2 linked regions of the Homo sapiens genome follow. The protein of the gene in region 2 purifies or fractionates together with the protein of the main gene of each other region. This does not show direct contact. Each region holds a gene or a part of one and is shown on either strand. Other genes may lie near its edges.

Region 1 (7,334 bases), on a different chromosome or scaffold from region 2:
TTGGTTATTTTTAGGAATTAAGTTCTAGCTACTAATACAGGACATATCATTCCAACAAATTTGGAATGATAGTTGACAGATTGGGAGTTTTTCACTCCTTCCTTTTTGTGAGAGTCCAAGATAGATAGCAAGGGATGAATGAGAGTAGATTAAGTAGTTGTTTTCATCTTTGTCACCCAGTTGTTAGTGTAATGATGTAAGCCCAGGAATACAAACAAGAAAAAAAATAAGATATTGGGCAAGTGTAGACAGAAAGGCCGAGAGAGATGACTAGTGTCAGAAAAAAAAGTGAAAAAGATAAGTAGAAGAGACACTTTGCAGGGGGACATTGATTTTTTTCATGTAAAGTATATCGTTGCATTTTATACAAAATCTAAAAAACTGATATTTAGACCGACTAACAATTTGGTTATAGTCTCAGTTTTGCTAACCTTTAAAGTAGTGTATCAGGACTGGGTATTTCTCAGAGATGGATAATTCAGTAGGCCTCTATCTGTATATGCTCATAAAAGTTTCTGACTTGTGACAATTGGTGGATATAGAAAGGTCTAAATTCGAGAGATGGTAAGAGTATATAAGAACTGAAAGTAACTTTATTTTTCATACAGCTCTTGGTACTTAAGTATGTACAGAACAAAGATGTTTTTATGAGGTATCATAAAGCTCATTTGACACGACGTCTTATATTAGACATCTCTGCCGATAGTGAAATTGAAGAAAACATGGTAGAGTGGCTAAGAGTAAGTAAATTTTTTTAAATATTTGGTTTTCTAATACATTACATCATTTATATGTGTGCTTAAGTAATACATTTTGGAGATATTGTTAATGTCAAAGAAGTAGGAAACATTTTATAAGAATATAGCGTCAGTTAGGCCGGGCGCACTGGCTCATACCTGTAATCCCAGCACTTTGGGAGGCCGAGGCAGGTGGATCACCTGAAGTCAGGAGTTCAAGACTAGCCTGACCAACATGGCAAAACCGCGTCTCTACTAAAAATACAAAAATTAGCTGGATGTGCTGGTGCACTCCGGTAATTCCAGCTGCTTGGGAGGCTGAGGCAAGAGAATCACTTGAACCCAGGAGGTGGAGGTTGCAGTGAGCCAAGATCGTGCCATTGCACTCCAGCCTGGGTAACAGAGTGGGACTCCATTTCAAAAAAAAAAGAATATACCATCAATTATATAAAATAAAGTGATATCTAATAAATGTTCTTAATACTTTCAGTAAAGTATCTTTGTTCTTGAGTTGTTTCTACTGTTTCACTCCCATTTGTACCTCAACTCTCATTTAAACTGACCTTATTAATAAATAGACTACAGGGGCTGGGCACGGTGGCTCACACCTATAATCCCAGCACTTTGGGAGGCCAAGGCAGGTGGATCACAAGGTCAGGAGATCGAGACCATCCTGGCTAACACAGTGAAACCCAGTCTCTATTAAAAATACAAAAAAATTAACGAGGCGTGGTGGTGGGGGGCCTGTAGTCCCAGCTACTTGGGAGGCTGAGGCAGGAGAATGGCATGAACCCTGGGGGGCGGAGCTTGCAGTGAGCTGAAATCGAGCCACTGAACTCCAGCCTGGGTGACAGAGCAAGACTCCATCTCAAGAAAAATAAAATAAATAAATAGACTGCAGGACAAATTATTATATCTTTAAGGTATTTTCAGTACTAAATGCTTAACTTTAGAGATGTTTATAAATGATAACAATAAATACTTCTGTATAGCAAAAAGAACCTTTAAATGATGGCCTATTTAGGGTAATCAATGCTGATTATAACTAAATTCCCATATAAAGTATTTTGAGTTCTTTTTTTGTTTTAATTATTAAAGTAAATATCTTTAATTTCTGTGTATGTATATAACTCTCTCCACATATATATGGAGAGAGAGAGAGTGCGAGCAAGCACACACGAGAGAGACCTACAGATATTTTAACTTATAGCTAGCCCTTCGCATGGAACTTTAGGATAGTAAAAATTACTGTGCTAACTGAAACTGCTTAGTAGGAAAAAGAATGATTATTCTGTGACTTTTTAAAACTATTGTCAAAAGACTCAAAACTCTTACTGTCACTTATAAGTATATAGGAAAAAGGGGAAAATAGCAAAACTAATACATATTTACTACGAGAAACCTTTAGAATTAAATTTTCTTTCTTTCTTTCTTTTTTTCTTTTTTTTGGAGATGTAGTCTTGCTGTGTTACCCAGGCTGGATTGCAGTGGTGCAATCTTGACTCACTGAAACCTCTGTCTCCCAGATTCAAGCAATTCTCCTGTCTCAGCCTCCTAAGTAGCTGGGACTACAGGTTTGTGCCATGACGCCTGGCTAATTTTTGTATTTTTAGTAGAGACACGGTTTTGCATGTTGGCCAGGCTGGTCTTGAAATCCTGGTCTTAAGTGATCCGCCTGCCTCGGCCTCCCAAAGTACTGAGATTACAGGCGTGAGCCACCACACCCGGCCTATGTTATTTCTTTGTTAAAAAAAAAATATCAAGACCCAACAGTAAAATGACAAACAAGGCTAGGCATGGTGGCTCACACCTGTAATCCCAGCACTTTGGGAGGCTGAGGAGGGCAGATGGCTTGTGCTCAGAGTTTGAGATGAGCCTGGGCAACGTGGTGAAACCCCATCTCTACAAAAATTTAAAAAATTAGCTGGGTGTGATGGCATGCACCTTAGTCCCAGCTGCTTGGGAGGCTGAGGTGGGAGGATCGCCTGAGCCTGTGAGGTGGAGGTTGCATTGAACAGAGATCTTACCACTGTACTCCTGCCTGAGCAACAGAGTCAGATCCTGTCTCTCTCACTCACACACACACACACACACACACACACACACACACACGACAAATAATTAAAAGCAGGCAAAGGATTCGAATTGACATCTCTTCACAGAAGATAGACAGATGGCCAATAAGTGCATGCAAAGATACTCAACATCATTAGTCATTAGTGAAATGCAAGTGAAATGCTCAACATGTTGGCTCCTGCTTATCCCAAATATTTTGAAAGGCTGAGGTGGGAGGATTGCATGAAGCCAGGAGTTAGAAACTACCCTGGGCAAAATAACAATACTCCATGTCTACAAAAAATACAGAAATCAGCTAGGCATGGTGATGTGTGCCTGTGGTTCTAGCTACTCAGGAGGCTGAGATGGGATGATTGCTTGAGCCCAGAAGTTCAAAGTTGTAATGAGCTGAGATTGTGCCACTGCACTGCAGCCTGGGCAACAGAGTGAGACCCTTTCTCAAAAACAAAAAAAACACAAAGAGATACTACTTTATTCCCACTAGGGTAGCTAAAATAAAGACAGATGATAACAAATGCTAGTAAGGAAGAGGAGAAATTGGAACCTTCGTAAGTTGCTAGTGGAGACATAAGATGGTGCAGACACTTTGGAAAACTGTTGGGCAGTTCCTTAAAATGTTGAACGTAGAGCTGACCCAGCAATTTCACTCTTAGGTAATTCATTTGAAGAGAAATGAAAACATGTTTCATGTAAAAACTTGTAAACAAATGTTCATGGCAAGATTACTAATAATAGTCAAAAAGTGGAAACAACCCAAAATGTCAGTGAGCTAATGAATAAAATGTGATTTATCCATACAATGGAATATTTTTTGTGATAAAAAGGAATAAACTAATAATACATGCTGCAATATTAGGTGAACTTTGAAAACATAATGCTGAGTGAAAGAAGCCAATCCCAAAGACCATATCGTATGATTCCACTAATGTGAAGTGTCCAGAATAGGCAAATCCACAAATTCCAGGAGTTGGGGCCAGGAGGGGAAATGACGAGTGACTGTAAATAGTATGGGGTTTCTTTTTGGGGTGATGAAAATGTTCTAAAATTAGATAGTGGTGATGGTTGCACAGTTCTGTAGATATACTAAACTTCATTACACTGTATATTTTATTTTTATTTTTATTTTTTATATTTTTTTGAGACAGAGTCTCACTTTGTTGCCCAGGCTGGAGTGCAGTGGTGCGATCTTGGCTCACTGCAACTTCTGCCACCCAGGTTCAAGCGATTTTCCTGCCTCAGCCTCCTGAGTAGCTGGGATTACAGGCGCATGCCACCATGCCCAGCTAATTTTTGTATTTTTAGCAGAGATGGGTTTCACCATGTTAGCCAGGCTGGTCTTGAACTCCTGACCTCAGGTGATCCACCCGCCTCAGCCTCCCAAAGTGCTGGGATTACAGGCATGAGCCCAGCCAAATTGTATACTTTAAAATAGTAGATTTTATGGTAGATAAATTATCTGACACAGTAAAGCTGTTAATAAAGAGTAGTTTGAATAGCTTTTGCCTTCTTGTGTAACTTGACAGAGTAAGCATCTTTTCTTTGCCTTGGAGAGTTGTCACACCCCCTGTAATTTGGATGATCTTCTAGCATTTTATCTTTTGGGCTGTCAGTGTCATGAAATACTGAGAATTCCTTTATAGCATTTTTGCCAGGATCACTTCTTCTAGGGTATCTTATCTTTTTTGTCACTCACCACTTTTATCTTTTATGTTGGTAATTTGCTTTCACTAAGTTCCTCAACACTGGCATTGTCAGCCTTACTACCACAGTCAGCTTTCTTCTATAACTCCATTTATGTTCTATTTTATTTTCATTTCCAGCATTATCACTTTTCATTTCCTGTTTACTTTTATATCTTTGCCAATTATCTTGTTTGATTATTCTTTTTTGTAAGTAGTCATGTGGGTTTATTACTGGAAGACAAGGATGCAATGAAACTGCATACTTTGCTGTCTGCAGTTTAACTGAATAAACAAATGACTAATAGGTTGTGTTTACATTTTTTAAAAATTTATTTATTTAATTTTTTCAAGCAACAGGATCTTCTGTTGCCCAGGCTGGAGCGCAGTGACACAATCAGAGCTTAAACTCCTGGGCTCAAGCAATCCACCCACCTCAGCCTTCCGAGTAGCTGGGACTATCTCGGCAGTATGCCGCCATATCCTGCTAACTTTTAAAATTTTTTTGTAGTGATGGGGGTGTCACTGTGTTGCCCAGGCTGGTCTTAAAATCCTGGCTTCAAGTGATCCTCCTGCTTCAGCCTCCCAAAGTGCTAGGATTACACACCATGCCAACTAATAGATTTTGAAAGAAGTATTGTGGTTAGTCATTGTTACTTTTGTCATGATTTGTGGATCAAAGAGCTAGAAATAAAGTTTTTACTTCATGCAGTTAAATTTATTATATAGTGTCAACTGAAAGTTGAGCTTTGTTCTTGGGGAATTGGTATTATTTAACTGTACTGTGGTAACTGAAATTCATACATACTAAAAATGCGCAAAGCAGGGACCCCTTGTAATACCGTATTTTGTTTCTAAGTAGCAAATTTCATAGGTATTAGACAATAAAATTCTAATAAATGAGAAAAATTTTGTATTAAAACATTTAAGACTTAGTTTTTCTATTAAAATTTTTCCCAGTAATATATCAGATTATGTATTTATTACCTCTTCCTTCTTTGGTTTATATTTATAGGAAGTTGGTATGCCAGCGGATTATGTAAACAAGCTTGCTAGAATGTTTCAGGACATAAAAGTATCTGAAGATTTGAACCAAGCTTTTAAGGAAATGCACAAAAATAATAAATTGGCATTACCAGGTATTATTTTATAATTACATGTATATATTTTTTAAACTTAGAAGAATATCTTTGTTTTCCAGTAAATTAAAAATAAACCTCAGCAGTAATAGATCGAAAGATGTTATGAAGTCCATTTCCGTGGAGACAGCTATCAAAGCAGTGTGTTAGATTTACAGATCTTTATTTCAAAACAAAAGGACACTTTTAACAAAATCTTTATAGTCTTATTGATTTTTCACCCAAAGTTACCCTGTATTTATTTTGAATTTTATCCATTGTTAATTTACTTTATATTCCTGATATTCTTCTCTATAGCTGATTCAGTTAATATAAAAATTCTGAATGCTGGCGCCTGGTCAAGAAGTTCTGAGAAAGTCTTTGTCTCACTTCCTACTGAACTGGAGGACTTGATACCGGAAGTAGAAGAATTCTACAAAAAAAATCATAGTGGTAGAAAATTACATTGGCATCATCTCATGTCAAATGGAATTGTAAGTAGATAGTGTGTTAGTTATTTCAGCTTTCAGTTTGGATGAAAGTAGCAGGACTCCGCAGAATTGCTTAAACAAAATAGATTTTTGCCTCTCTCACATGTAAAAGTTTGAGCAGAAATAGTGAATTTTTTTCATGAAGTTGATAGGGACATAGGCTTCTGGTTATACCATCATACTTAAGATACTGCCGTTGTCTACAGAATTCAACATGATCCCAACTATCTCAGTATTCCTGGCAACAGAAAGCAAAAGGTGAGGGTAGCTTACACCTTTCATTAGGGACAACTTCTAGAAGTTTCCTCTGTCATTTTCCATTTGCATCCGCCAGTACTCAGTCACTTGGCCACATTTTGTTACATGGAAAGCTGGGAGATGAGCGTGTATTCTGGGCAGTCATTAACGTCTTCTAAAATGTTTATTACTGTGAAAGAGTGGATACTGGAAGACAGCAACCTTTTTCATATATAAATTCATGTCATAGATATTAAGAGAGAATCATCATGAGATTCTTTATTAAAAATCTGTTTTATCTATTATAGATAACATTTAAGAATGAAGTTGGTCAATATGATTTGGAGGTAACCACGTTTCAGCTCGCTGTATTGTTTGCATGGAACCAAAGACCCAGAGAGAAAATCAGCTTTGAAAATCTTAAGCTTGCAACTGAACTCCCTGATGCTGAACTTAGGAGGACTTTATGGGTTGGTTTATGTTTTTTTGTTTTTAAGACTGTATCCTCTCATGTAGCAGGAAATATATGATTGGCTTGTAATATATTAGTAAATTCATAACAGTTTCAGAATGTCTTATCAAGAAAAATAGAGGCCGGGCACAGTGGATCACGCCTGTAATCCCAGCACTTTGGAAGGCCGAGGTGGGCAGATCACTTGAGGTCAGGAGTTCGAGACCAGCCTAGCCAACATAGTGAAACCCCATCTCTACTAAAAATACAAAAATTAGCTGGGCGTGGTGGTGGGCGCCTGTAATCCCAGCTACTTGGGAGGCTGAGGCAGGAGAATCGCTTGAATTCAGGAGGTAGAGGTTGCAGTGAGCCAAGATTGCGCCACTACACTCCAGCCCAGGCAACAGAGTGAGAACTCCGTCTGAAAAAAAAAAAAAATTATGCACACACACACACACACGAGATATTTATGGAAAAAATAAATTGCAAATAGGCAAGTTACCAAGGCAGAGAAAAGTGCTTCAAAAAAAAGGAGAGGCTGGGGC
Region 2 (7,433 bases):
TCTTGGCCTCTCAAAGTGCTGGAATTACAGGTGCGAGCTACCATGCTCATCCTGATCTTTTTAAAAATAGTATTTTGATCCATAGAGCTACTTTGTCAAGGTAAAAGAATTTTCCACTTGATTCTATTAATACTAGAGAACAGAAATTAACTATTGAATACTAGAAGGTATGTTATATGTGGTACCCCATTAAATAATCTTTTCAAAGACAGTATATGGCACTCTAGTGAACTTAAAAAGTGAGTGCTGTTCCCCAGGTTGGATAATTTGTTTTCTTTAATTAGAATGATCTGGCCCATGAAATTTTTTTATTTTGAATTTTTGGCATTTTAACAATACACAGTAGATTCTACAAAATTCAAAGCATTCAGAGGGGTCTATAGTAAAAATCTCTGTCATTCTCACCATCAGCCACCTACTTTTCTTTCCTGGAGGTAACTGATGGTATTTTTCTAATCCCTCCTAGAATTTTTTTAAAAATTGCTTTGTCAATGTGAACAACAAAGAATAACACTTTAATACATTCATTCTTAAGTCATATGGAACCACACAGTATTTTTAAACCAAAATTCATATTATCTTTCCTTTGTGGACAAGAGAGAGAAACACATGCCTAGGGCCTTTCCTGCTATTGGGCAGGAGAAGTTACCTTAACCCATACCAGTCCATGGGCCAGCCCCGCAAAGATGCTTCGACAAAGGAGGCCTGCTGTGCCGCAGTCATGCTGCAGGTCAGCCGCTAAGTGTTAAGGTGACCGCCATGGAGCTAGAATAAAGAAGCTTTGTGCTACCTGTCTCACAGGAGAGACTATTGAACACAAAAGCAAGTTCACAGGGCAGTTTCACCCCGACTTTAACTACTGTGAAACTTAAATTCAGATTCATTATATTTAAACTTATTTTGTCTCCTCTAAATATTTTAGTTGCAATCTAGGCCTTCTCCTACATGTCCCTGTTAATCAAATTAAATCTTGAGGTTTTAAAAAAACAACTGTGTGGAAATTCCCTATAAATCTCTATCCTGATGGTTAGATTAAAATTGAAAGCCAGTAAACCAAGGTTCCAGCCGAAATGAAGGCTATGTTTTATTCCTACATGAAACCATGCCACCCCCATCTCAACATTGCTTTCACACAGTTTCTTGGTTGCCCAAGCTTCCCTTGTTTGGCAGTCTGGTTGTCACAACTATTTCCATTCAATCATCCTTCTGACTGCAAATGAGGTTTTTAAAAAATATGTTTTTATACCCTAGCTTATTCCAAAAGAAATGATTTGTGTCTAAAATGTTTTTAACATTTGAAATTTGTAGTTCTGTAGACAAACCATTGGCAAGGAGGCCAAGCTAGACCGGGAATCTGCTGTTACTGAATCCAGAACTGTGGCTAGTATGGTCGCATTGAGTACTAGGGAGAAATGAAGAGCTCCTCTCAGCCTCTGGGCCCTGCCTACACAGATCTGTCTTCTGATGGCAGGGAAACTGCAGTGCGCTCTTCTTCCTGTGACTCTCTTGACACTTTGGCTCTGCTCTGGTGTGTCTCTGTTAACTGTGCCCTTCTTTTTCCCCACCAGTAATCTATAAAACCAGCCTCCTGCATCTCCAGCCGCGGCAGATGACCATTTATCTCCCAGAAGTTCGGAAAATTTCCATGGACTATATTAATTTACCTGTCTTCAACCCAAATGTTTTCAGTGAAGATGAAGATGATTTACCAGGTGTGTTCACATACATCAACGTGTTTGTCACGGTCCCTCTGTCAGTAGATCATGCAAGGGGGACAGAGCGGCAAGTTGTTGAGGATTTCAGTCTGCTACCTGGGTTTGGAAAAGGTATCCCTGCCTCAGTAAGGTTGGTAGATGTGATGTTGTGTCCCAGGGGAAAAGTCACAGGTTGGCACCAGTGTTGGCAGGAGGGGAGCTGCTGGAGCACAGATGGTTCCAGTAGCAGCGGCGCCTTGTGTTTTCGGAGCACAGTTCTAACATCTGGCTTTATCCTCACAGCTATCCTCTTAGTCTTGTGTCTGGATTCAGATAAGTTTGCAGGACTGATTGGGACTAAATAAAATCAGAACTGAGACTCAATCTCATTGATCTAGGCCAGCTTTCATCCTTTCAGTCCCTGCTGAGATAGTGTCTCACTCCAGCATTCCCGTGGTGCGCACAGAGCCCAGTTTCTCAAATCTGCCGTGTCCAGGACGCAAAAGCCTTTACCTGGAACTACCTCTCTTCCACCGCAACCGCATGTCTCAGTGCACAGGGGCCTGGTCTGAGTTCAAGATAAAATCTGGTAAACAGTTTTTAAATTCCAGTTTTCAAATGGTAAATATCAATATCCATAGCATCTTAAGTTAATGTGTTTCCCAGTGGGGGGATTCTTAAAGGATCCTATTTTGATTAATAGATTACAATGACTTCCAATTAGTCTGGCCAGTTAGTTGTGTGTAACTATTTCACTAGAGGGTACTTGAAAATAACTTGCTTTTCTAAGTAAAAGGCCACCTGAGATTTTATAGATACACAGACTCCTCTACTTCCAACTAAGTGGGCTCTGGAAGTCTCTTGTTTCTGAGCTAGAGGAACCCAGACATGGACCGTGACTTCTCCAGTATCTGGATGTCTGTGACCAGAGGGACTGGTTCTTGCAGTGGACATAGAGGGCCACCCATTTCAGCTTGGGCCCTCCTCCTCAGCTTGGCTCTGAACTTGAGAGAGTTGTTTACCTTCTCTCAGCCCAGTCTTTTTAACTGAAAAAAGAAAAAAAAATGATTTATACTGCACTTTCCAACAATAGCCATCTTGCTTCTCTGTTGGTGACCTCTCCTGCATGGGTGAGCAAATCTCCTAGGCTTATGTGGTCCTAATAGGCCAAGCTTACAGCCACATAAATACCTGTAGTTTGGTGAAGCCTCCCATACCTGAGCTTTCTAGTGCATCCCCTTCTACTTCAGAATCTTGGAATTAGAAGTATCTTTTAAACTTTCCCCTTAACGCTTTCCCTGTTCTCCCAAAATGCGAGGAATACAGCCCTCTCCAAGGTTCAGCTGTTGCTGCAGTTGTCGTTATTGTCTGTGGTTCTCAATGAGAGGAGGGAACATATTGTCTCAGGGATTACATTTAATGATGGTGACTCAGTGAAGAGGCTCTTCTTCCTTAAAGGGGAAGATGCCTGCCATCAGTGTTTCATACAGACGAGAGAGCTTCTCCAAGAGGGATCTGAACAGGAATCATAGGAAACCTGAGACAGACCCAAATTTGTGTGGCCAGGGGAGAGTTATGTCTTACTAGGACACCCCAAGGAAGGGCCAGCTTAGCTTTTGATAAACTAGCTGGCTTGATTCTGTAGTTCTTTTGATGAGAAGTCAGCCAGTGTCACATTTCCTAATCATGGACTAGCTGCCACACGGTACTTACACCATGCCTCAGATTTCTGGATCAGTGGCAGTTTTCTCTAAGGGAAAAGCCACAGGGTAGCACAGTGGGCCTAGAGGAGCCAACTGCAGAGTGCTCAGTGGGCACTTTAAACAGGGTGGTGCAGACAGTGGCTCTGAGCACCTGTCTGTAGATCGCTGTTCAAATGCACGCACGCTCTGTTAAACTCTCACTGTGTACAAATAGGATATATTTATAGGGTTTAATTCAGCATGGCTCTACCTTACATACTGTTTGAAATGCTAAAAAGCAGATAAAGGCCAGGCAGGGTGGCTCACACCTGTAATCCCAGCCCTTTGGGAGGCGAGGTGGGTGGATCACCTGAGGTCAGGAGTTGGGGACCAGCCTGGCCAACATGGCAAAACCCCATATCTACTAAAAATACATAGCTGGGTGTGGTGGCGCTCACCTGCAGTCCCAGCTACTGGGGAGGCTGAGGCAGGAGAATCACTTGAACGCAGGAGAATCACTTGAACCCAGGAGGTGGAGGTTGCAGTGAGCTGAACTCCTGCTACTGCACGCCTGGGCAACAGAGCAAGACTCTGTCTTAAAAAAAAAAAAATTAGGAAATGATCCTTCATATGATACTCAGATTCACTAGAAGATTCTTTTCATTGTTTTTTCTACCACATTTTACATGGTTCTATTTACAGAAACCTAATGTGCATACATTTCTTATACACATCTGTTGCATGACACTTTCCACACTATCCATCCCATAATCATGAATAGACCTATTCAGAGGCCTAGGCACTGCAAGTCCTCAATGGAGGTTTTTCCTGTACCATTGCCCTCTTCTTGCATAAAAGGGTGGGTATTTTATGAATATCACCAGTAAAAAGCTTCTTCAGACATTTAATTATCTGTGATGGTGCCATTGAGGCACTGGTGCCAAGTTTAGAAGGTTCAAAAGTGAGTTAGTCGAAAAGTTCTGACAGTACCCTTAGCTAACAGACAGCAGCAGGCTGCCCTCAAGAACCCATCTCCCTTGTGCGAGCAGGCCAGCTTTCCCCAAGCAGACACGTCTCTGTCTCTGGCAATTTGCATTTTGTTTACAGAAGGAGACTGGATGAGTCCAGACGTATTGCTTATCCTGATCTGGTTTAATGGCAGTGTTTTTGTAAGCAGTTCCTTTTTCTAATTTTCTTCCAGTGACAGGAGCATCTGGTGTCCCTGAGAACAGCCCACCTTGTACCGTGAACATCCCTATTGCACCGATCCACAGCTCGGCTCAGGCTATGTCCCCCACGCAGAGCATAGGGCTGGTGCAGTCCCTACTGGCCAATCAGAATGTGCAGCTAGATGTCCTGACCAACCAGACGACAGCTGTAGGGACAGCAGAACATGCAGGTGACAGTGCCACCCAGTACCCAGTCTCCAACCGGTACTCCAATCCTGGACAGGTGATTTTCGGAAGCGTGGAAATGGGCCGCATCATTCAGAACCCCCCTCCACTGTCCCTGCCTCCCCCGCCGCAGGGGCCCATGCAGCTGTCCACGGTGGGCCATGGAGACCGAGACCACGAACACCTGCAGAAGTCAGCCAAGGCCCTGCGGCCAACACCGCAGCTGGCAGCTGAGGGGGACGCAGTGGTCTTTAGTGCCCCCCAGGAGGTCCAGGTGACGAAGATAAACCCTCCACCCCCGTACCCAGGAACCATCCCCGCTGCCCCCACCACAGCAGCACCCCCGCCCCCTCTGCCGCCCCCACAGCCCCCAGTGGATGTGTGCTTGAAGAAGGGCGACTTCTCCCTCTACCCCACGTCAGTGCACTACCAGACCCCCCTGGGCTATGAGAGGATCACCACCTTCGACAGCAGTGGCAACGTGGAGGAGGTGTGCCGGCCCCGCACCCGGATGCTGTGCTCCCAGAACACGTACACCCTCCCCGGCCCGGGTAGCTCTGCCACCTTGAGGCTCACGGCCACTGAGAAGAAGGTCCCTCAGCCCTGCAGCAGTGCCACCCTGAACCGCCTGACCGTCCCTCGCTACTCCATCCCCACCGGGGACCCACCCCCGTATCCTGAAATTGCCAGCCAGCTGGCCCAGGGGCGGGGGGCTGCCCAGAGGTCCGACAATAGCCTCATCCACGCTACCCTGCGGAGGAACAACCGTGAGGCTACGCTCAAGATGGCCCAGCTGGCCGACAGCCCGCGGGCCCCCCTGCAGCCCCTGGCCAAGTCCAAGGGCGGGCCCGGGGGGGTGGTGACACAGCTCCCAGCGCGGCCCCCACCTGCCCTGTACACCTGCAGTCAGTGCAGTGGCACAGGGCCCAGCTCACAGCCCGGAGCCTCCCTGGCCCATACCGCCAGCGCCTCCCCGTTGGCCTCCCAGTCCTCCTACAGCCTCCTGAGCCCACCCGACAGCGCCCGCGACCGCACCGACTACGTCAACTCGGCCTTCACGGAGGACGAGGCCCTGTCCCAGCACTGTCAGCTTGAGAAGCCCTTGAGGCACCCTCCCCTGCCTGAAGCTGCTGTCACCCTGAAACGGCCACCCCCTTACCAGTGGGACCCCATGCTGGGTGAGGATGTTTGGGTTCCTCAAGAAAGGACAGCACAGACTTCAGGGCCCAACCCCTTAAAACTGTCCTCTCTGATGCTGAGTCAGGGCCAGCACCTGGACGTGTCCCGACTGCCCTTCATCTCCCCCAAGTCTCCTGCCAGCCCCACTGCCACTTTCCAAACAGGCTATGGGATGGGAGTGCCATATCCAGGAAGCTATAACAACCCCCCTTTGCCTGGAGTGCAGGCTCCCTGCTCTCCCAAAGATGCCCTGTCCCCAACGCAGTTTGCACAACAGGAGCCTGCTGTGGTCCTTCAGCCGCTGTACCCACCCAGCCTCTCCTATTGCACCCTGCCCCCCATGTACCCAGGAAGCAGCACGTGCTCTAGTTTACAGCTGCCACCTGTCGCCTTGCATCCATGGAGTTCCTACAGCGCCTGCCCGCCCATGCAGAACCCCCAGGGCACTCTCCCCCCAAAGCCACACTTGGTGGTGGAGAAGCCCCTTGTGTCCCCACCACCTGCCGACCTCCAAAGCCACTTGGGCACAGAGGTGATGGTAGAGACTGCAGACAACTTCCAGGAAGTCCTCTCCCTGACCGAAAGCCCAGTCCCCCAGCGGACAGAAAAATTTGGAAAGAAGAACCGGAAGCGCCTGGACAGCCGAGCAGAAGAAGGCAGCGTTCAGGCCATCACTGAGGGCAAAGTGAAGAAGGAGGCTAGGACTTTGAGTGACTTTAATTCCCTAATCTCCAGCCCACACCTGGGGAGAGAGAAGAAGAAAGTGAAGAGTCAGAAAGACCAACTGAAGTCAAAGAAGTTGAATAAGACAAACGAGTTCCAGGACAGCTCCGAGAGCGAGCCTGAGCTGTTCATCAGCGGGGATGAGCTCATGAACCAGAGCCAGGGCAGCAGAAAGGGCTGGAAAAGCAAGCGCTCCCCACGGGCCGCCGGCGAGCTGGAGGAGGCCAAGTGCCGGCGGGCCAGTGAGAAGGAGGACGGGCGGCTGGGCAGCCAAGGCTTCGTGTACGTGATGGCCAACAAGCAGCCGCTGTGGAACGAGGCCACCCAGGTCTACCAGCTGGACTTCGGGGGGCGGGTGACCCAGGAGTCCGCCAAGAACTTCCAGATTGAGTTAGAGGGGCGGCAGGTAAGACCTCAGACCAGGTGGCGCTGCGAGCCCAGGAGGCGAGGGTTTCAGTGCTTCGGCCTTCAAGGAGCATTTTTCAAAAGGCCAAATGGGAAATGTGGAAAACAACGAACACCTCTTAGGTGGAGCTCATGGGGTTATGGTTTTTAGTGTGCCCACTGCTGTCTTGTATTTTTTTTTTTCTTTTTGAGACCGTCTCGCTCTGTGGCCCAGGCTGGAGTGCAGTGGCGCAGTCTTGGCTTCCTGCAAGCTACGCCTCCTGGGTTCACGCCATTCTCCCGCCTCAGCCTCCCGAGTAGCTGGGACTACACGTGCCCGCCACCATGCCCGGCTAATTTTTTTTTTTTTTTTGTAT

Evidence for each region. Proteins that work in one complex are often made in the same cells at the same time.
Region 1: the proteins of TULP4 (region 2) and CUL5 purify together in Homo sapiens (affinity purification with mass spectrometry; 5 studies listed by BioGRID and IntAct, with this or other methods). This does not show direct contact.

What each region holds. Positions count from the first base shown.
Region 1 is NC_000011.10:108,088,884-108,096,217, forward strand, and holds part of CUL5 (cullin-5), read left to right. Parts: intron 1-608; coding exon 609-740; intron 741-5,507; coding exon 5,508-5,631; intron 5,632-5,928; coding exon 5,929-6,104; intron 6,105-6,646; coding exon 6,647-6,808; intron 6,809-7,334. UniProt on the Homo sapiens protein: Core component of multiple cullin-5-RING E3 ubiquitin-protein ligase complexes (ECS complexes, also named CRL5 complexes), which mediate the ubiquitination and subsequent proteasomal degradation of target proteins.
Region 2 is NC_000006.12:158,497,101-158,504,533, forward strand, and holds part of TULP4 (tubby-related protein 4), read left to right. Parts: intron 1-1,568; coding exon 1,569-1,712; intron 1,713-4,577; coding exon 4,578-7,078; intron 7,079-7,433. UniProt on the Homo sapiens protein: May be a substrate-recognition component of a SCF-like ECS (Elongin-Cullin-SOCS-box protein) E3 ubiquitin ligase complex which mediates the ubiquitination and subsequent proteasomal degradation of target proteins.